Homo sapiens: one gene and its partners. The protein of the gene in region 3 purifies or fractionates together with the protein of the main gene of each other region. This does not show direct contact. Each region holds a gene or a part of one and is shown on either strand. Other genes may lie near its edges.

Region 1 (7,107 bases), on a different chromosome or scaffold from region 3:
GCTCCTGAAAATTTTACAGTTAGGTGTATCACTAAAATAAAATAATAGTGGAAGGATACTGAATTCAGTGGTAATGTGTTACCTATGAATTGCAGTATTAGAGCTGTTTCTTTTTTATAATATCTGAACCTAAAAAACCCACTGAATCCACATTTATAAAAAGGGGAAGGGGAAAAATGTAGAGAGTTTTTTTCCCTCAATAATAATAATACCATTTAAAACTAGTAATATTGATACACAATATTAATAAACTTAAAGAGTTATTTAACAGTAAGATAGATACCCATTCAGAAATGTTTCAGACTTCCATTTTCCTGACAAGTTTAGGATTCATTCAGTAGGTTAATAGACTATGATCCCCTGCTCTTTATCATAGTTGGGATTTCTGTTGGTAGTTTAACTGAAGAATCAAAGATTCAGTGTACTTAAGCAAGTTATTTCTGTACCTTGTATTGTAACACTTTTAATTTTCCTTTGGTAGCCAAATTTCATAAATTAGCTTTCATATGTTAATGGAAAACCCTCCTTCATCTCCATGGTATAAAGCCTGAGTTTGTACCTCTAGGCCCCTAATTGTGTCTGTACCCACCTCAGGTCCATGTATATCCATTGTTCTTTGCCTTCAGCTCTTTTCATTAAGTGTATTGATTGAAAACTATTTGGATATGAACTGACACTTTTAAAAAGTCATTTTTATTTCAAGTCCAGAGGATTGACATAATTCAACAGGGTAACTATTAGAAACTATATACCTCTGCTAAAATATTTATTCCCCCAAGGAATCCTGAAAAACACTTTTATATAAGTTTTCTAAAAAATAAAATGAAAATACTGTACAGTACAGTTAATGGTAAAAATTGTTTGTAGATTTGGGAACCTTAAAGTTTTCCTTTCTCTTCTTTCCCTTGCTTTTCTTTCAGTAGAAAATGTGCATCAGATGTTTATGTTTAATTGGTTTACAGACTGTCTGTGGACTCTTTTCCTGTCAAATTACCAGGTAATGTCCTTTCACTTAGCAGCTACTTCATATATCTGTAAATGCAGTTTATTCATGCACAGATTATTATTGGACATAACAGTTTCAAATTAACATTGAATCTTTGGAAATAGGAAAATGCTTGATAGAGTCTAGAATTTTAAGGGAATATAAATAATTTAATAGCCTCCCCTATATTGCATTATAAGTTAAGTATTAACTTTAAGAAAAATTGTATATGTACACATTTATGCAATGTAGTATTGGTTCACATTATTTGGAAGGAATGAATAATTCTCGTATTTAAATGGTTGATTTTGGTAGCCACTTTTGAAACTGCATTAAGAGGAACCCTTGAAGATTAGGAAAAAAATCCCAGTCTTTTGAAATAAAGACTTTCAAACTGGTTTAGTAAAATATGTTAGTGACTGTTTTAATGTCACCTTTGTGTTATTCAGTATGTGCCTTAGTATAATGGAAGTGAAACATGTTAGTTACTTTGAAATCATTGGTTCTGGCCATCATCAGCATTGGCATCACGGCCAATTGGCAGCTGTAGGCCAATACATTAAAATAAACTTTCAAGTTACAGGCATTTCAGGCATTGCAAATAAGTAGGTTCTCCCTCCATGCTACTAAATAGATGATATCCATAAAACAGTCAATTTTCAGTATTTTAAATTTTGTCTAGTTGTGCAAAATTCAGTACATAACTGTGTTGCTACCGGCATGACAGAAGTGTGTGAGAAAACGCAAATGACATGAGGATGGCGGACTGCCTATCATAACCCCTTCCATTAATTTTTGCTCTGACCTCTCTAGAGATTTGGGGATATAGAATTTTACATTTCCTGTCGGGAATCTACTGATGGAGAAATATTTGTCAAGGCATAACCGCTTTCAAAGCACAGTTCTTGCCGCCGTTGCATCACAGCAACATCCGTTTTTCAGCAAATGCATTTCAAAAACGACCTACATGTAAAATATTACGTATTTTTCCTCTGCTGTGTCAATGCTGGATGTGACTCCTTTGGCACTGTTCCTTGACCTCTCTGATCCGTAGACAACCCCCTCCGCCTGGAGTGGCGGATCAGCTGGAGCCAGCGAAGCGCCCCGCGCGGTTGCCCACCTCCTCCCACACCCACCTTGACTCCGCCCCCTCCGCTCTTCCCGGGGAGGGCTGGCCGCGGGGCCGCGCGCGCGCCCCTGCTCCGGCGCGTGCTCGCTGGTCTTTTCCCTCCAGTCCAGCCCAGCCGGGGCGCCGCGAGGGGGCGGAGTGGGGTGTGGTGGGCGCGCTCGGGCGGCTCCTGCGCGTTCCCGCCGAGGCAGTGGCGGCGGGAGCGGCAGAGACGGCAGCGGCCGGAGTCCCGTTGCTGAGTCTCACATCCGGGTTCTGGCCGTGACCCAGCTGCGGCCGCCGCGGAGATGTGACCCGGCAGTACGGCAAATATGGCGGAGGTAAGGGAGCGAGCTCCCCCTCCCTGTCCCGGAGCCGGGCGCCCCCGGCCCTGGGCCGGGGAGGAGTGGAGTGGGCCTGGCCAGGAGAGGCCCGGCCCTGCTGGCGCCGCTGCCCACCTGTTGTCCGGAACAGGCCATTCTCTGGGCGGGAGCTTCGCCTGGAACTTAGTTGGGATGGGTCCGGGGGTAGGAGGAAGCGGAGGCGTACTTGGACTTCGGGGGCAGTTTGAAGGGTAGTGCAGCGTAGTAGTGCGGTGCGAGGGGGAGGGGGCGCCCGCCGGGGAAGGGGTGCCTGTGGCGCAACTTCGCCGGCCGGTGCTAGGGGCCAGGAGAGAAGCTGCTGCTTCCTCTTGCGAAGTTTTTTCCCTTCCTAACCGAGATGCTGTTGCGCCCTTCCGCGTCACCCCCATCCATTTGCGACTGACATCCAGTCTGTGTTAGTGGGGAAAACGTAAGGCTGACGGCCTTTGATTAACTCTGTAATTTTCATGATCGTGGTAAAATGAGAGTGGATAAATTAATCTGGCCAGCCGCAATCCAGCCCTCCAGGTTGGGGGGAGTCTGCCCATTTATCCAGACAGTTCCATCTCCCGCTCCCCAAGGTACAACCTCTGAGCTGCTTTTCCACCTCCCCCCACCACCTTCACTTTCCAGGCTTCCCCCCACCCCCTTTCCAAATCAAGGCTACCTATTCTTGTCTTCTTTCTCTTCTAATTTTTCTTTCATTGGAGAAGCTTTTTCTTGTTTCTTTTTGCTCGTTTTATAGTAAACAAGTTCCTAAAGCCCCTTTTTTTGATTTTACATATTTGGGCCGCAGTTGGCGGGCATACAACTGCTGTTGATTTATTAATCGGAACTAAGTATACGCTACTGGAACTTTAAATAACTGGAAGTTTAAAAAATGTTTAAAATATCTGAAGTTTTGTGGGATTTGTTTTGTTTCCGTTTTTCCTTACCCGTGGAAGAATTTCAGTATTCTTTATTCCTGAGAGTTCGAGATGATGTATTTGGATTTTTTTTATGACTCCTTTGAAATAAGCCACTGTAAATTTTGATTGATAAGGCATTTCTCTTGTTTGAATTGCCATTTTCATGGTTTCACAGGCACCCCAAAACAGATTTAGGAAGGAGGGTGAGATTTTGCTGTAGCAGACAGGACTGTTTGCTGCGAGTATTCTTTTTAAAACATTCAATATCTCTAATTTACAACTAAATTTAGATCTTAGATTTATTTTCATTTCTTTTGCTCTTGGTGGTTAAAGAATTGTATTTCCAGGCACATGAATTGGAGAACGTAGTACTTTCTGTTTCCCCAAAATGTGACTGCGTTTGTTCCAGTAGACTGAGAATCGGTACCTGGATTTTAGTCCTGGTGAGGTTCTTATTCTTAAGTGTTTGTTTCCTTCATGTTTAAGGAGTTGTGTGTAGCTGGATTTATACATTTTGTCAGTTAGTGTCTTCAGTGGACCCCTTTCAGTGAATATCGGGTAAGCAGCAATGTGCTACATAGGTAATGTGGTTTCTTCTTTCATGGTGTTGCTCAGGATGGTTTGAGCTTTGAGGTGTGTAGTCATATACTAAGGCAAGATATTACTGAAGGAAAATAGCTTATACAGAGAAATTTAAGTTAAAAAACTTAAATTTAAAATTTCTGTGTTTTTAAAAAATAAATTTTATTGCCGAGGGAACTAAAAAATCTAATATGTAAAAGAAATTATGTTAACTTTTTTGTTTTAAAAATTAAAGATGGTTGCGTTATTGTAAGATAAAGGAAAAAAATATTTTGATTCACTAATCATTTCCTAATATTTTCTAATGTATGTTTTAGTTTTCTTAAATATTTTATCAGTTGGAGAATGGAATGTTTTGTGGGAACGCATGGATTGTTCAACTGCAAGAAGGAAAGAACTGGAATTTTGTTTTTATTTGGTTTTTAGTGTTTATTTAATGACCTGGTATCTTTAAACAATTTATCTTCTATATTCTTCAGTTACTTGTAGATAGTTTCATGTATAGTGAATTGGGGAAGAGTTAGAGGAACTTTCGTGATCTGTGTCCTACAAAAAAATCTAAGACAGGTGAAGAAGTGAAAAGTACAATTGATTTATAGTTTTCCTGGCCTCAATACTTGAATAATTATGACGATTTTTGAGACCAGTGGTTTTAAACAATTAGACAAAGGAGAAATGCTTGGTTGGCTTTTACTTTGAGCTCTCAGTAGATTCATTCTTTATGAAGCCAATATAAAAGCATGTGATTAAATAATCCAGATGCTGAATTATTGTGCTTTTGATCAAATAAATCTGAGGATTTAAGGATAGCTTGTGAAGTAACAGTAAGTGCAAAGCAACAGTATATATCTATTTGTTAAATCTGAGGGGGAAAACAGGTTATTGAAGAAGTATGTCTCCAGAGAAAAATGTAGGTATTATGCTTCTGGGCTTTTAAAAAAAAAAATTGATGCTTCCTACAAGAGCATGACCCTGACCATGTTTTTCCAGAAAAATATTTAATTCTTGAATAGAAAGTGCTTTAGATGAGAATAGGATATACTAATTTTTTATATTTGATCTGATTATCTTAGTCCATAATAGGAAGTATATATTGGTTCTTCAGTTGTGATAACATTAAAGCCGTATTTAATGTACTTAGAATAAATAGCATATGCTCCCTTGCTTAATACTTTTTGGCAATATTTCTCATTGCTTATTATCCCTTAAAATTATTTACCAACCTTCTAAAAGGACGCTCTCCTAGTCACACTTGAAGGAAATTACAGGATAGTTGCAGTTTTACTAACTGCAAAAATAAGAGGAAAATGAGAGAAAAAATGAGAGGAAGAAATAGTTAATCCTTTGGGTTTTATAAGGAATGTACTAGGGACCTTTGGGAACGAACAATTTGTCTTGTATTTTAGCGTTTGTAAACACGTAAGGGACTTTCTTCTCAAGGAAAAAAATCCATGGACAATTCAAGACCTGTCTTTTCACCTAGGCCACATTTCTGTGATATAAAGAGAAAATTAATGGATTTGCTTCTTTCTATTTAAGTATTTTAGTACTTTCAAAGAGGGTATATAATCTGTTTATTCACTTTCACACCTATCCATTTCTCTTTAAAATGGACTCCTTGCTTAGTATTTTTTGAGTGTATTTGGATTTTTTTAACGAAGGATTATGTTAAATGTTACTTATGAAAACATTAATTTCTACTCTAAGCAAAATGTGTTTCACTGCAGTGAATTTAAGCTTCAAATAATTCTCGACACTAATAATGAATTTTTTTTCATGTTTATACTTCAGAGCTATTAAGATTTTAAAAGTAGTCAAGATCACCAGTGCGTGAGAGTCCTAAAAATCTTAATTCATTGGCAGTTAAGAGTTAGGGTACTTTAATAGGTGGGAAAGGTTTGGTGGGAGAAACAAGTGAATTACTTTAAGATAATTCTGGTAAGTGAGACTAACCAGTTTTCTAAATAATTCAGAAATAAAACACTGCCATTGAAGCTTAAGCATGTCTTTATGAAAAGTAATCAGCTATCTAGAAATGCCTGCCTGGCTTGATGTTCATTCAAAATTCATTGCAGTGATTAAATTGTTCAAGTACCAGTCATTGCTTGGGGCTTGTTCTGTTTGTCTTATTCTGTGGCTTAGAACAATAACTTATTATGTAGGTATGAAATTCATGAAGTAGCACCCCAAAAAATTGTTTTTGCAAATTGAGATTTTTTTAACAGTCCTAGATTTAAAAAAATAAATTTAAACATATCCCATGCATTTAGCTGCATACTCCTTAGTAGTGTTAGGTTTCTAGAGCAATTTATAATAAAAGTAAAGTTAGGTCTTGAAGAAATCTAAATCTTTTGATCATAGAGAAAATGAAAGTGAGCAGAGAGTTTACGTAGTTTGTCCTAGGTCGTGCAATTCATCTATGGCACAGTTTAGACTGGAACCCAGCCTTCTGTATTCCTAGATTCCTAGTGCTTATTTTCTTTTTCTTTCTTTCTTTTTTTTTTTTTTTTGAGACAGGGTCTCTCTCTGTTGCCCAGGCTGGAGTGCAGTGGCGCAAATCATAGCTCACTACAACCTCAAACTCCTGGGCTCAGGTGATCAATCCTTCCCTCAGAGCCTCTCAAGTAGCTGGGACTATAGGCATGTGCCATCATGCCCGGCTTTTTTTTTTTTTTGTGGAGACAGGGTCTCGATATGTTGATCAGACTGGTCTCGAGCTTCTGGCCTTAAGTGATCCTCCTGTCTTGTGCTGGGATTATAGGCGTGTGCCACTGTTCCCAGTCCTTATTTTCTATGATATCATTTTACTTCTGAATTATTAATACTGTAGTAAATTGCTAATTTTAATTTCAGTACATTCTTAACCTTTTTATACCCCAGAATTCCTGAGAGTAATAACAAAGTTAAGTAACTTAATTTTATTGGAGGAGAGGGATGGTGAGCCAGCCCTTGGCACGGTAACCATCTTTCACCCTAAAGTAGGACCCCTCTTTCCAGGCTTCTATCCCCATCTCCATTGCTGTGAGAATCTCTGACTTAGAGTCTACATAACTAAGTAGATGACGGCAATACTTAAAAGAAATGGTGGTAGAATTGTTTTGAGGGGAAAAATTTGTTCAGACGGTAATACTCATTGCAAATAAGCTTTTGATTGCCTGGAAT
Region 2 (7,107 bases), on a different chromosome or scaffold from region 3:
CAAGTCATAAAACTAACCTCTAAAGGATTACTATTAATGAACACTAAGAAGCACCTCTCTGATTTTGTCACTGGGGGGAAAAAAGGGCCATAGTACCAAATATCACCTGATTTACCTCCCAATTCATAACAATGCCAAACAAGGACAGAAGAAAAGAGAGATGGATTCAAGCATCAATTCTCACTACCCTTGGGAGGGAGGACAAATATGCCATAAGAAGTTTAGAAACAAAAACTCCAGCCCGGGCAACATGGTAAAACCCTATCTCTACTACCGAAAGAAAAAAAAAAAAAATCAGCCAGGCATGATGGCATGCACCTGTAGTTCCAGGTACTCAGGAAGCTGAAGGAGGAGGATCGCTTGAGCCTGGGAGGTGAAGGCTGCAGTGAGCTGAGATTGCGCCAATGCACTCCAGCTAGGGTGACAGACTGAGACCCTGTCTCAAAAGAAAAAAAAAGGAAGGAAAAGAAAAAGAAACAAGCAAAAACTAATTTATGGTGATAGAGGTTAGAGGTTAAAATAGTGGTTACTTCTGTAGGGAGAAATTAATAGGAGGGAGCACAAGGCACCTTTAATCAGTGAAGAAAAATATTCTACATCTCTATCTGGGTATTTCATTTAAAATAGGCTCTAATCACGGAAAATGCTTGCATTCCACAATTCTCATGTCTGTGCTTTTTTTACATCCTCTTCTCCCCAGGTGTAACCCAGTACCTCCCACTACCTGGGAGTTACCTAGGTATACTTATATGTATAAATTCACTGAGTTGTACTTAAGATTTGTGCACTTCACTGTATGTTATACCTAAAAAAAATACTTAAAAACAAGTAACCAATTAATAGCTAAATCTAAAAACCTTTTCTCAATTCTCATCCTTCTTTATCAATCTCCATCATATTGTTAATCACAGAACATCAATATTCCCTAAATGAAACACTTTCCCTTTTGAAGATCGACTAGGCTTTGTTAGGATGTTTTTTCCAGCATTTTCTGTAGTGTCATATTAATTCTCTCTAAATATTAATTCAATATTTATCTTTTTTCTTTTGTTTTTTGGAGACTGAGTCTCACTCTGTCGCCCAGGTGGGGATGCAGTGGCATGATCTTGGCTTACTGCAACCTCCGCCTCTCATGTTTAAGCAATTCTCCCGCCTCAGCCTCCCAAGTAGGTGGCATTATAGGTGCACACCACCATGCCCAGCTAATTTTTGTATTTTCAGTAGAGACGGGATATTTCATCATATTGGCCAAGCTGGTCTCAAACTCCTGACCTCAGGCGATCTGCCGACCTCAGCCTCCCATAGTGCTGGGACTACAGGCATGAGCCAATGCACCCAGTTAATTCAGTATTTATCAAGTGCTCATGTATGAGACACGAATTAGGCACCCTCCAATATATATTTCCAATCTCTCTCTCACACACACACACACACACACACACACACACATACACACACACACACACATATACACACCCAAACCAAATTCCCTAAACTGGATTCAAGCCACTCTATTACCTGGTATCAAACTGTATTTGCTGTTTTAATTCCTATCACTTCTTTATGGGAATATTCTTCTCAAGCATTTTCTGTTCTCAGCTATCCTTTACGGTTCAGTTCAATTTCTATGTTATTCTTTCCCTATACCCCATAGGACTTACTATCTGTAATTGCACTGTCCAATACAGTAACTTCATGTGGCTACTGAATACCTGAACTCTGGCTAGTCTGAATTGAGATGTGCTTTAAGTATGTAATACTAACAGATTTTGAAGACTTAACATGGTTAAAAAAAGAAAAAATGTAAAATAGTTCAATCATGTTTATATGATGAAATAATAGTATTTAGATACTGGGTTAAATAAAAATCCATTAATAAAATTTCACCTATTTATTTTATTTTTTGATGTGGCTATAGAAAATCTAAAATTGCATTTGTGGCTCAACTTATATTTCTATTGGGCAGTGCTGACCTATACAATCTATTTATAAATGCCCACAAATTACCTTTTTCTTCTTCTTCTTCTTAAACTGATAAATACAAATTGTATATATTTATGGTGTACAACACATTTTGAAATACATATAAATTATGCAATGGTTAAATCTAGCTAATTAACACATGCATTACCTCACATAGTTATATTTTGTGGTGTGAACACTTAAAATGTACTCTCCTAGCAACTTTCAAGTATGCAATATTAACTATAGTTACTATGCCCCACAAATTATCTCTTAACATATAATGTCATCTTCCCGATGAGTGCCAGAATTCAACATTAAGCTTTTTTCTTTTATGAATTAAATATTATATTAGGAATTACTAATAGTAATTAAGTGCCATTTAATTTTAATATCCCTTTAAGATTTTTAACAAGGAAGTGTAAGGCATTTCAAAGTGTTCAAATATTAAAAAAAAGTTGTTTTCAGATAGCTATAAATTATACAATTTTTCATCTATATTTTACTTATATACAATTCTAAGTCAAATGTCCCACCAGCAAGGATAGATAGCATGATTAAACCTGTAGCAATCCAAATCCCATAAAGTATTAGTTCTGATTAAGCCTGATTTTTTTCATCTTAGTCACTCAGTAAAGGGCAGCATCCATTTTGGTCAACATCATTGTACCAATGTCCAGCAGCCAAGACAAAGAGCCTTTATATGGTGGTATGAATAGACAATGAGAGCAATACGACACCACTTGAAATAAGGGGGGGGAGAAAAATGTTTTTATAATGCTAAGTTTTAAAACTAGGAGATGAAACTTACAAATTGTGTAACAACTAGGTAAAAGGATATATATGTAAGAAGAACAGGAAGGTAGAACAGAAAGGTCTCCTCTCTAGACCTTCTCAAGATATACCTAGGTTCAAACTTGGCTACTCCATTATTAAGTGGATGTGTTTCCTCACATGTAAAGTGGGAATATATACATCACAGGATTATTAAAAGAATATAGTAGATGCTTAATTAACGTCATCTGTCTTTAATACTAATAATTATATAATGGTAATAAGATTATGGGTGACTTCCCCTCCCTCACTTTCCAAATTGCTGTATTTTTCAAGCATAAATGAAAAACTTACAATTTCATACTAGTACCCCTCCTCAAATGAACCTAAAATTATTTTTACTAGCTGTCTTTGACAAATTTGCTTATAAGCTTAAAATCCGTGTTTGTGCTAGGAGGAGGTTGGTGGTAGAAAGAAAATTAAAGAGGGGGAACTGATAACTTTAACACCATACCAGCACAGACATATACAAAACAAAGTGTGGAGAGGAAAAGAGCAAAAGGAAATGCTGTTTGGGAAATTCCCAACTCAGACTATCCAATGAAAAGATTATATTCCACCCGCCTCAATCTAGCTACCTACCAGCCACTCCTCACTCTCATCTTGGGTTTATACGTACATTACAAATACGCATAGCCACTCACCTTCTTCTCTCTACTAATAGTCACCACATGGCCTCACAGTCAAAAATTGAAAGGAGAGTGAAGAAATTCAGCATGTTATAACAAAGACAAACCAATGCACTGGCTGGGAAATAACTTCATTAAAATGTACTCATTCCCAAGTGTATCTACTCATCTGCTGACAGTGCTGGGAATGCATTCCTGAAATATTTAACCTGGTTATAAGATTCTGCTGCTAGAATCAGAGAAGGCACACTTTGATGCCTACCTCTCACTTCCTCTATAACAACCTTGTCTTTATCGGCATGGCTTAAAATGGGACATTAGCAAAAGTATACAACTGCAAATCACTCACAGGTGAAAATCTCAAGTTAATGTAGAAAGAATAATTAAACAATGGTAATAATAACTATTATTACTCTAACAGGTAACACTTACTTTACTCAGCATTGTATGCCAGAAAGCTAAGGACTTTACATGAATTATGTAATATCAACCCTAAACCTCTTTGAAGATGGTAATTACTAATTCCACTTGCCTAGTGCTCACACAGCTAAATCTGAACCCTGTCAATTTTACTTCAAGGCTTACACTTTCAAACTTTATCATATCCTGCCTCTTTATATATGCATAATTACAATTGCAATTGTGATTCTATGTGTGTGTGTGTCTGTGTGTAAAGTATTTAGTGAGTCAGTAGCAAACAAAAGGCAATTAATTCCAACTCTGTGAAGCCTTTTACCCACCTTCACAAACCAACAATAAATTGGGAATTACCCCTCTCCTCCCCAATAAATGGTGCTCTGAAAGTACTAGTTTTACAGTCATACATCACTTAAGCATGGATGTACATTCTGAGAGATGCATTCTTAGGCAATTTGGTCACTGTGCAAACATCACAAAGTGTACTCAAACAAACCTAGATGGTAGAGCCTACTTACACACCTAGGCTACTTGGTATAGCCTATTGTTCCTAGGCTACAACATGCTCCTGTAAAGCATGTTATTGTACTGAATACCACACACAACTGTAACATAACTGTTTAGTATTTGTGTATCTAAACATAGAACATAAAATACAGTAAAAATACAGTATTACAATCTTATGGGACCACCATCGTAAATGCAGTCCACTATTGACCAAAGAACATCATTATGCTGCACATGACTGTATTTAATATCTTCCTCAAGAAACTAATGAAAGAGATACTTTTAAGTAAAATATTAATCTTTTCAAAAAATTAGATAAAATAATTGATAGACTACAGGTAAACATGCTTTGTAAAGTGTAAAGAATTTTAATCAACACTTTATTAGGTATTTTTAATTTTCAGTTGTCTATTTGGCTCAAAATATACTTACGTTTCTAGAGTTTGAACAAAGTCTTTTTTATTTGAGACAGGGTCTCACTCTGTCACCCAGGCTAGAGTGCAGTGGCACGGCATCTCTGCTCACTGAAGCCTCTGCCTCCTGGGTTCAAGTGATTCTCCTGCCTCGGCCTCCCAAGTAGCTGGGACTACAGGCACGTGCCACCATGCCCAGCTAATTTTTGTATTTTTGGTAGAGACAGGGTTTCATCATGTTGACCAGGCTGGTCTCAAACTCCTGACCTCAAGTGATCCACCCACCTTGGCCTCCCAAAGTGCTGGGATTACAGGTGTGAGCCTCCACACCCGGCCTATATAAAGTATTTTAAAAGCTGTATTTTCAACTTAAAAAAAAGATACACATACCAAAAGGCTTAACACATAAAATCTGCCTTCATCACTCTAACCCAGCTTCAATTCTACCAAAATCTAGGCTAACAGAATTAAGCTTCAAGGAACAAATCATTTATCTTTATTTTTACTTACAAAATCTCAGTTCAAAGGATTCCAAATGAAATGGGAAGACCACAGCTAGCAGACAGAAGAGGTAGGGCCAAGATTAGTAGGAGAGGGGAAAGAAAATCTCCCAGAAACGCTAATCTTAATCCAGTCTCACTTTCTCCCAACCAAGAGAAGTGTGCACTGCTGCTACTTCTGCCCTGGCAGGCTCCTCCTCCTCTTACTCTTGAAATCCTCTGCTTTTTTCCTCCTGGAAAGTTACTCTCACAGGGCTGTTTTTCTTCCTAACATCTCTCAATTGTCAAAGGATTTCTTATCTTGAAATTAAAAGAATAAAAATATACTAACTTTCCATAATCACATAAGAGTTCCCAGGAAGTTCAAAAAGGATAGTAACTACTGCCAGGTGCGGTGGCTCACGCCTGTAATCCCAGCACTTTGGGAGGCCAAGGCGGGTGAATCACCTGAGGTCAGGAGTTCGAGACCAGCCTGGCCAACATGATGAAACCCCATCTCTACTAAAAATACAAACATTAGCCAGGTGTGGTGGCCGGCGCCCGTAATCCCAGCTACTTGAGAGGCTGAGACAGGAGAATCACTTGAACCTGAGAGGCAGAGGTTGCAGTGAGCCAAGATTGCACCACTGCACCCGCGCCTGGGAAACAGACCGAGACTCCGTCCCCCAACCAAAAAGAAAGAAAAAGAAAGGATAGTAACTCCATGGTTCAACTTGGCAGATCTGCAAAAAAAATTATAATGCAGCAACTAAGGCCTTAGAGACAAGAAAACACCTTTTTCATGGGAACTTCCTCTCCCTGAAGAAAGACAGAATTTAATTTAGAGTCTTACTACCCTCTGGGTCTCCTGTGATCTTCATGTTTGTTTCTTAAGGGGAAGAGGAGAAATCTTTTAGCCAACCAGCAGGGTGAGCTAGTGCTAGCATCAGTTCCATGATTCTCAAATCTCCCAAAACTCAATGGTGTAAACGGCTTGCACTATTAACAGCAGCTATTTATTTCCCTCTAATAAACCTGAATCAAAAACACCACTTCTAGAACTGCTTCAGTCAATGCTATACCTGACAACTTTACTCAATATTTACAGATTCTCCATATACGAAATAGACATTCTCTCTACCAGAAAGATTAATAAGTGTAAATAAAAGCTCATTTGAATATGTATCCATAGTATTACAGTATCCACTCTTCATTCTCGTTTTATTTTACAAGGTTACTAATTTAAAACATTTAGAAAACAGTTTAAAAAATGGTTAAAACAAGTGCTCTATAAAATCAGGGTTAGATAACTCAACATGCCAATTTCTCCATTTGCTGCAAGCTACAATTGTCTTAAGACCTGACTGAAAAGCCTTCCCAAGAATAAGATTCACTTTTCCTTCCAGAATCACATCCTGAGAAAATGGTCTAAATAAGTAACACTAAAAAACAATATTTAGGATGACAGAAAAAAAATGGACCTGACCTTTCTCTAGATTGCAGATATCCCACCACTTCTATTCTCTTTGAAACTTTCTTTTCTCCTCCTGCTACCCATTAACAGTCTCAATTCAACCAAAACACTCTTATAACTTGAATGACAAACTAAAACTGGAAAATGTTTAAGGTTGGCAGGTGACAGACCACTTTATAACTACAAATAACCTGAAAGTGACTCTAATTTTCACAAAATGAAAGTGTAAGTAAATCCACTCACATAATGTTGAAAATTATAAAACAGCTTATCAACTAACAAAAATCAGTAATTTAAAAGCACCTTATATGACCCATAAAAACTTTTAAAACCTTAAAACAATTTAACTTTTTGCTAAATCTGACATTCAAAGAAGTTAAAAATCACTATAG
Region 3 (8,100 bases):
GTTTTGGGATTACAGGCGTCAGCCACCACGTCCAGCTGAGTGTTTGCACTTTGAACAAGTCCCAAGGTGATGCCGTTGCTGCTAGTTTGGGGAACCACACTTTGAGAACTTCTACACTAGACAATACTAGTGATTGAAAAAAAATCAAGCCCCACTAAGCGCCTCCAAGTGCTGGTCTGGCCCCAATCTTCCAACTCATTTACACTTTGCTTTAGATTCAACATCCACCTGCTCCTGGGATAATTCTGGGTTCCCCCACTTCTGGTGGGTCTTGTGTTTCTATTTTCCTTACCAGTCAAAATGTCCACACTCATCTCTTGCCTAGTTGTTCTCTCTCTCTCTTTCTCTCTCTGTCTAGAAATGGAAAGGTAAAGACGATACTGGGATGGTCTGACTTGAGAGACAAATGCAATTAATCATCACAATAATTCAAGGGAAAGTTAAACAGTACTTGCTGTTTTTTTCCAGGGATCCAAAATGAGTTAGTTACTGCCTTGGCATAAAGTCAACCAAAATTATGGGAATACCTGTGCCTATTTCCTCTTTATGATTTTTGGTCTTTTTGCTTTCCAAAAATGGGGTAATGTATAAAATTATCAATGAAAAACTTCCTTGCTCTTGCTCATTACTTTAATCAAAAAAAGTTCAACAAGTACATATTACAAGGATTCTCTTGGTAGAACACCATTAGCTAAATAGAAAAAGGAACCGTACTTAAACACTAAATCTAGTTGAAAAAGCAAATGATCCTTAATTGTAGATTGATGAGCTCCGGCCAGTGATGGTATCACAGCCTAAGATGAAATTGGTGAAATCAAATGTTAAGAGGTCTCAGAATTGGCATCACGAGGGCAAAGAGATGAAACAACTAGTGATATCTGGCCAAGGAGCAGCAGTGTGGCAGCTGGCTACTGGCTTCTATATGAAAGAGAGAAATGGTACCTACCTGGGACCAACATGGAGGGCGGCAGGGAGAGGCTGCCCCTCGAAATGGGGAAACTGACTGTTTGGGCAGGGAAGGCAACAGTGACTGAAAAAAGGAATCAGCTGTTATTGGTTGACCAGAAAAAGGTACTGGTATCCACTCTAAGCTTTTAGGGAAGGAAGAACTGGTTGGCTCCCAGTTCAGACAAGGCCCCTAACATCTGAATTAATCTTATAAATGGTTCTGTATGCTTCTTTCTTTTGGGTCTCAGGTTTAAAATGTTCTTTCTTTTGAGTGGGTGATTGAGATGGAAATTCCACCAAGTTTTCTGGAGTAGATACTCTATGACAAGAACGGCATTTAATTTCCCTTCAGCCACTGTGGGTTTAAAACCAACAAACTTAGGTCGCATCTTCATAAAAATCACAATTAAATTTTGGGTTATGGAGGAGGTAACCAGGATAGAATATGCTTTGGGGGTACAAAACTGTTGAAGGGAATCATTATCAGTAGCTTTTCACAGCTACCCAACCATAAAACGCCTTTGGCTCTGAGAATAGTAGTAGCTAGATTTTGGCTTCTTTTGTTTTTTTCTGTCCCATCCCCCATCTCCCCTTGGATGCCTTTGGATTCAAATGTAGATGAAATGCAGATTCTTGGGAGAAAGGAAGACATGCCTGGTTTGGCTGGTGATTGGGAAAAGAGGAGGATCTCAGATTTCAGGTTTTAGTTATCATTCTCCCGAGATGGGAAGAGGCTGTGATTCTTGATCTGAAGAGTCTTATCGTCGGTAGAACTTGCCATCGATGATCAATTGTTTGGATTTGAGGAGGAGAGAATTGAATTATGTTGGCCTACAACAACGGGAGCAGGTCAGGTAAGAATCGTTTATTGCTGGTAGACGTGTCTTTTAATCATGTGTGTATATCGTCTCTCTTGTTGACCACTTCTCTAATCTTTTAAGAGTCATATGTCTTACTAGTGCATGGTATTGTGCTGTATGTATTTTTGCTGCAATCTTCCCGGTGTGCTTAGGGGATGTGATTTCACTTTTATTCTTAAGCCACTGAGAAAATAATAGCACCCACACACGTGGTCATGGAAACTACAGAACTTCACTGTTTCATAAAAGGTGGTGGAAATTCCAAGTCATTAAATAATCTTGGGCATATTTACTTCTGCTATGAGTGCTGGTAAAATGTTTATATAAAAAAGTGACGGAGGAAAGCAAAGTTTGCTTAAAAGTAAGACAAATTGAACGAATGAGGTTAAAATATATATGTATATATAAGCAAAATAGCATTCCATAAATCAGTGAGTTTTAAATGGAGGGCAGATGAAAGGAACAAAGTGGACAATTGAGAACTTCCTCAATTTCTCAGTCGCTAGGTGGATACCCATCTCCTTCGCCAGTGGAAGCCAACTGTCAGAGTGGAGAGGTGGTTGGAACTTAGGAGTATGGCTCACTCCTGCTTTGTTTTAGAGGCTACTGGTGGTTACTCTTAATGTTGTAGACTAAGGATAGCAGCATAAACATTCCAGATTGTCAAGATTGAAAAGCTACGTAAATTGACAAAGGTCTATGTAAATTGACATTTTTGAGTTGCCTTTTTGAGGCTATAATTCTTCCCCTTTTTGTTTCCACAATGGGGAAAATCGCCTTACTAGCTCAATATCTGGATATGTTTGTTGTGGATGTCTATGTTCCTTTCTTTCCCTCTCCTGGGCAACAATGGCAGTTTTGGAGACTCCTTGGAGACCACAGTACCATTACGCACATGGTGGAGCCCCTTGTGAATGCCTAAGCTTGTGGATGTTCTGAAGGGGGCAATAATTGGAGTAATGGTCATGGCGAGAAGTGCTTGTATTTGTATTGGTCCATCATTGCATAATAGGCTTATATGTTATATGTATCTATTTCCTATTGAGGATCTCTTTTTTACAGTTGATTTTTCTTGAGGGATTTTAAACTATCACCTGCCAGTATTTGAGCGCTTGCCGAAGTGTGCACTCAATGCTTTGAGATTTCCCAAATGTATAAAATCCTAGTCCTTGCCTTCAAGGAACTTACAACTTTTGTTGATAAATTGGTAAACCTAGAGAGAAGGCAACAATGAAATGCAGCATATAATGGAAATGCTAAGTGAGAGGAAAGAGGCGCTGTTTGGAGGAGGGAGAGGGAATTGGCTGGGCCATCAGGGAAAGAGGCAGAGCTTGAGGCGCCTTGACCAGTTGATGAAGTGGTGGCTTTAATTTGCGATTCTTGTGCAAACATTTGATAATGGGAATTGGATGTGTAGGTATTGGGCTTTCTCGTGGACACTGAAATTCCATTCATTGAACAACACCTTATTTCCTGTATAGAGAATGGTGCTAGGGGCCAGCGTCAAATTTGAAGATGAAGTCTGACTGAAGGTCATCGTTTGGAGTTGGGGTGGGGTGAAGAGTAGACAAACCTTAAAATACAGAGACGAGTGCTGCAGTGAGCACGCGTGAGTGCTTAGGCAGCGCTTGAAGAGGGAGTTACCGATTTGGCCCTGGAAGTCAGGAAGGCTATCCTTTTAAGGTGATCCCTGAGCTGGGAGTTTGTTTCAAACGGTGGGGACCGCAGGTAGAAGCACCGCTTAAGGGGAACGGCGATTCGACTCGCAGTGACTTAAGGGTTGGCGTGGTGCTTGTTCCTGGGCGTGGGGAGGACAGGAAACCGCGGGGTCTGTGAGACGCCCCGTGGTTGTTGAAACGCTGTTGGGGGGCACAAACGAATAGGGCTTTAGGAAGAAAACTGGTGGGAGGAGCCTTGTGGCTCCAAGGTAGGTTAGGAACTGGAGCGAGATGGAGCACGGAGGAGTGAGGCGGCCCGAAGGATGCCCGGGGAGACATGGAGGAACTGGCGAGGGCTTCCCGATGCAGGGCCTGGGGGAGAGGGTGAACTAATGCCTCTGCAGTGCCCCGTGGGGAAGTTCCGCATACTCGGCCAGAGTGATCGGAGTTGGCGGCTGTCTGGGGGAGTTGGGTCAGGAAGCCCCTTCTTTCGCCACCGATGGGGCACGTCCAGGGCCCGGCAGGTGTGCCCTGGCAGTAGATCTTCCCTGGGAAGTGGAGCGCGGGCCAGCCCTCGCTGTTCTGAGCGAGGGCCTGTCGTGTAGTCCACACCGTTCCGCGAAAGGAACCACCATTGACAGCCTCGTTCGATTAGAACCCGGACCTCCCTGGAATCCAGACTCGGTCCCTTCCCAGCTGCGCTTCGGAGGAGGCGGACGCTCCGAGAGGAACCCAGAGGCCTGGCGTGGGGGGAGCTGCGGGCAGAGCGGAGGCAGCCGCGCCCTCGCGCCGCCCTCCGCCGCGCCCGGCTCCCGCCCCCCGGATCCCACCCCCGGCCTGCCGCGGAGCCAGCGTGCCAGCCGGAGCTCGCCGGGCCACCCCGCGGGGCGCGCGGCCCGGGCTCCGGGTCTTGGCGGCGGCCGGTGGGGCGGGCATGGGGTGGGGTGGGTGCTCCACCTGGCCACGCCGCCGGCCCTTCGCGGGCTGGCCCGGCCCCGGACGGGCGGGCGCACGGAGGCCGCCTCTTGGGCTCCTCCTGGAGGGAGGCGCGCGGTAGACGGCGCGGCCGCTGCCGTCGGGGCGGTGGGCTCCAGACGCGGGCCGGCTCGCTCGCATGGTTCCCTGCCCCATCTCGGGTCCGTCGCTGCCCGTCCTGGTGTGCACAACCGCGCTGCGCCTCGAACCTCGAGGTCCAGGTCCCGCCTGCCCTGGGCCGGGCCGCAAGCGCCCACGTCGAGGCGGGCTGGGGGGCGGTGCCGCGGGCCAGGCCGACCCCGCAAGCGGGACTGGGGAAGTCGGAGCCCCGCCCACCACCCCGCCCCCCGCGCTCGCGGCCCCGCCCCCGACTGCCCCGCTCCTCCCCTTCCTGCCGGCTCGCTCCCGGCCCCGCCGGCCGCCCGCCTCGGCCCCGAGCGGAGCCCACTGCTCCCCTCGGCTGCCCCGCCCCGCCGCCGCCCCGCCCCTCCCGCGCGGGCGGCCCGAAAACCCGGAGCGCGGGAGCGCGGCTCCGCAGGGCCGGGCGGCCGCACTGGGCATGCTCAGTAGCCGGGGCAGGTTTTTTGGTCGCAAGTAGGAAGCTTTCTGCACTACACCGGAGAGGGGAGCCGCGATCCGGCCGCGCCGCCCGCACGCCGCCGCGCCCGCCCCAGCCCGCCCGGCCCCGCGGCGGGGCGCGATGAGCCCGAGCGCGAGCCGGCCCGCCGGGGAGTGAGCGCGGGGCGCCCAGGGCGCGTTGCGTAGCTGCTCCTGCGCACAACCCCGCCGCGCCGCCGGCCCGCACTGGCCGCGGAGTGCAAGAGGCTCGTCCGTGCCCAGCGCCCGGCCGGCCGCGGGAGCAGGAAGCGCAGGCCACGCAGGACCCAACTGAAACAAAGTGTCGGCCGCCCGGCGCCGGCGCCCGCCCCGACCCTGCCCCTCCCGCCCGCAACTCCGCCGCCCACCATGGCTTCCGAGGAGCTGTACGAGGTACCTCCCCTCCCCCCGGCCTCGGGCCGCCCCCCGCCCGCCGCCCCTCCCGGCCCGGCCGCGCCGCCCGACGGCCCCGCTCGCCGCCCGCGCCCGCCGCGTCCCCTCCCCCGCCGCGGCCGCAGTTTGCTGGACGGGAAATGTGTGTGAGGGGAGCCCGAGCCTCCGTTCCGAGGGGCCCCGGCCGGGGGGTCCTGAAGTTGCCGGGCGTGGGGTGGGGGGGGGGGTCCCAGCCGTGGGGAAGTGGTGCTGACACAAGTGACTTGCTCGGACTGAGCTCAAAGTGCTCTTGGCGTGGGTCGTGGAAGTGGTGCCTCCGTTGCCGCTCGGCGGGGACCGTGGGCGGTACGGGGGGTGGGGTGTGGGGGGGTTTCTGGATCATTTGATAAAGCATTTGGGAGAGGGTTTTGCCCCTGGTCGGGGGGTGGCGGGGAGAAGACCGGTGCAAACGCTTTCGACTTTGCTGTTCGCCAAAGCGATGCAAAATCTCGCACCGAAAATGCTAAACGTTGACCACATGCTTTAATTAGGTTAGCATTGTGGCCAGAGCCAGGAAATTTAAATTTAACGCTGATACACCGTCATTCATTTGCGCCGCAGCGTTGCAAATGAGAAGGGCATAGCCAGAACTGTAAGTTCTGGTCGATGGGTTTAAACCAGCTTCAAGTTTGAGAGTTACCAATTTGGATCTTTAGACATGTTTTGTATGTCTCCATGTAACTTCTTTTGACGTATTTCAAAGTAGACTTCCTGGGAGTACAGAAGTTTGGAAGGCTTTCTGTTCTTCTGGATAAATGATTCTCTTGTTTCACATGTATTTATAAATAAGTTCCTAAGAGACTTAAAACTTGCGAAGACTCTCTAGACTCACCTTTATGATGCGTTTAGGGACCTGGGTGTTGAGGGACTTAAGGAAGCATCTGTAACAAGTAGAGCCCTGTGGCCCCAGGGATCCTTTCAGTTGTCTTCTCTTATGGGCGTATTATTGCTGTTGGCATAGAATAGAGCTTTGTTGTCTGCGATGTTAGTCTTCTAGCAACTTTTTTGTTGCTTTTTAAGAGCAAGTGTTTGCAGAAGTTCTCAGGAGGAAGCTGCCATCTGTAGAATTAAGGGTAAGGTTGTTGCTTCTCCTTACATTGTATGTGGTCAGTATACCTTAGCTGGTACTGAAAATGTTCCATTCTTTTCAACCATTTTACACATTAGCTGTGCCCCGCTGTATTCAGGATACTATTTTAGGTCATTTGGGGATGTAAAAGAAGAAAAATCTCCCTGTTCTCAGGAGCTTTCCTTCTAGGAAGGAAAGTGTTGTGTGTCTGGAAGACACAGAAATGGAGGCTAGGATGTTTGAGGTTGAGGTCTTCCAGGTGAAGTCTGTACAGGGGGAAGTACATAGCATGAGGGTATGGGGGATTTTAGTTTCTACATTAGATCATTCTTTGGTTGTTTAGTCATGAGTGTTCACTCTTGGCATTTGCTTTTATGAGTATGATTACATAATCAGTTCCATCAGTGGATGAGAGTAGCACCTTATACGTAAGTTGTATCCTATGTGTGTAAGAATGATTCTGAAGACAGCACATTTCCCATTAGTATATTATGAACTAAGTTTAGTTCCTTCTGTGCTTATTCTATATCTTCAGGTTTCTGTTCCTAACAGAAGTTATTAATGAGTAACATTTTGTACTAAGTTTGTGTTCATTTAACGTTTATTGAATGCTTGCCATATGGAGGTTTCATGGGGAAATACTGAGGTGTGAGAATGGTTCATGCTTTCAAGGAGTGTCTGTTGGGGAGGAAGTAAGTATATTGCAAATAAATGATACACCTGCACAATTGAACTTTTGATTCTGAGTTTTATTTTAGTTTTGGAAAAAAAGGTATTATAGAAGTATAGTTCAGGTGATAAATTTAAGTATGTGTAGTAAATATGTAGTGGTCAGTATCTTTCAAGGCAAAATTTGTAACTTTTCTTTTACTTGTAGGCAACACTGTGACTATGTTACCATTGAAAGTTGACATTGAAAGTTTTGCATGGCAGTTGAGAGCCTAGATTTGGAGTCAGACAACCCAGTTAGTGACTTCCAACTCTATCACCTTGGGTAAATTAGCCTTGAAAGCTCAGTTTCCTCATCTGTGAAATTGGGATCAGTGTTTCCCTTATAGAGCTATGAAGTTTACATGAGAACATATGTAAAGCCCACCCTAAAATTCCCATGGCAAGCACCCAGTAAGTGATGATGATTGTATGGTAACTGGCTTAAAATGCCTCCCTGAAACCTGGTTTTGTTTCTAAAGGTATAGAGTTGTATTGTTTTCATAAAGGCAGTATTATCTGTAGGGCAGAAGTGATACGCAATTGTAAATGAACGCGATAGTCTGACAAGGCTGGGAAAGACACTAAGATGATGTTTTGTGGCCAAGTCAAGGGTTGTTAGTTGCCTTGTTTTGTCCAGTTCTGCCTAAACTGAAATAGAAGTTTTCTGTTTGGCCTCAGGCTCCACAAATCTAGAGGGATATATTGACAGGAGGAAATGTGAAGTCTTGCTTCTTTGAACTCACATGGTCTGGTAGGAGGACAGGTCTGCAGTAACTGGGAACTTGGGTGAGTTACCCAACTGCTGAGCCTTGGTTTTCTCGCCTAAAAGAAATGTCTCCAATACTTAGCA

Evidence for each region.
Region 1: the proteins of CDYL (region 3) and MIER1 purify together in Homo sapiens (co-immunoprecipitation; 4 studies listed by BioGRID and IntAct, with this or other methods). This does not show direct contact.
Region 2: the proteins of CDYL (region 3) and ZNF644 purify together in Homo sapiens (affinity purification with mass spectrometry; 2 studies listed by BioGRID and IntAct, with this or other methods). This does not show direct contact.

The regions. Positions count from the first base shown.
Region 1 is NC_000001.11:66,927,967-66,935,073, forward strand, and holds part of MIER1 (mesoderm induction early response protein 1), read left to right. Parts: intron 1-920; exon of another isoform or gene 921-923; coding exon of another isoform or gene 924-997; intron 998-2,289; exon of another isoform or gene 2,290-2,425; coding exon of another isoform or gene 2,426-2,434; intron 2,435-7,107. UniProt on the Homo sapiens protein: Transcriptional repressor regulating the expression of a number of genes including SP1 target genes. Probably functions through recruitment of HDAC1 a histone deacetylase involved in chromatin silencing.
Region 2 is NC_000001.11:91,012,035-91,019,141, forward strand, and holds part of ZNF644 (zinc finger protein 644), read right to left. Parts: intron 1-7,107.
Region 3 is NC_000006.12:4,771,377-4,779,476, forward strand, and holds the start of CDYL (chromodomain Y-like protein), read left to right. Parts: upstream 1-5,027; 5' UTR 5,028-5,407; coding exon 5,408-5,431; intron 5,432-8,100.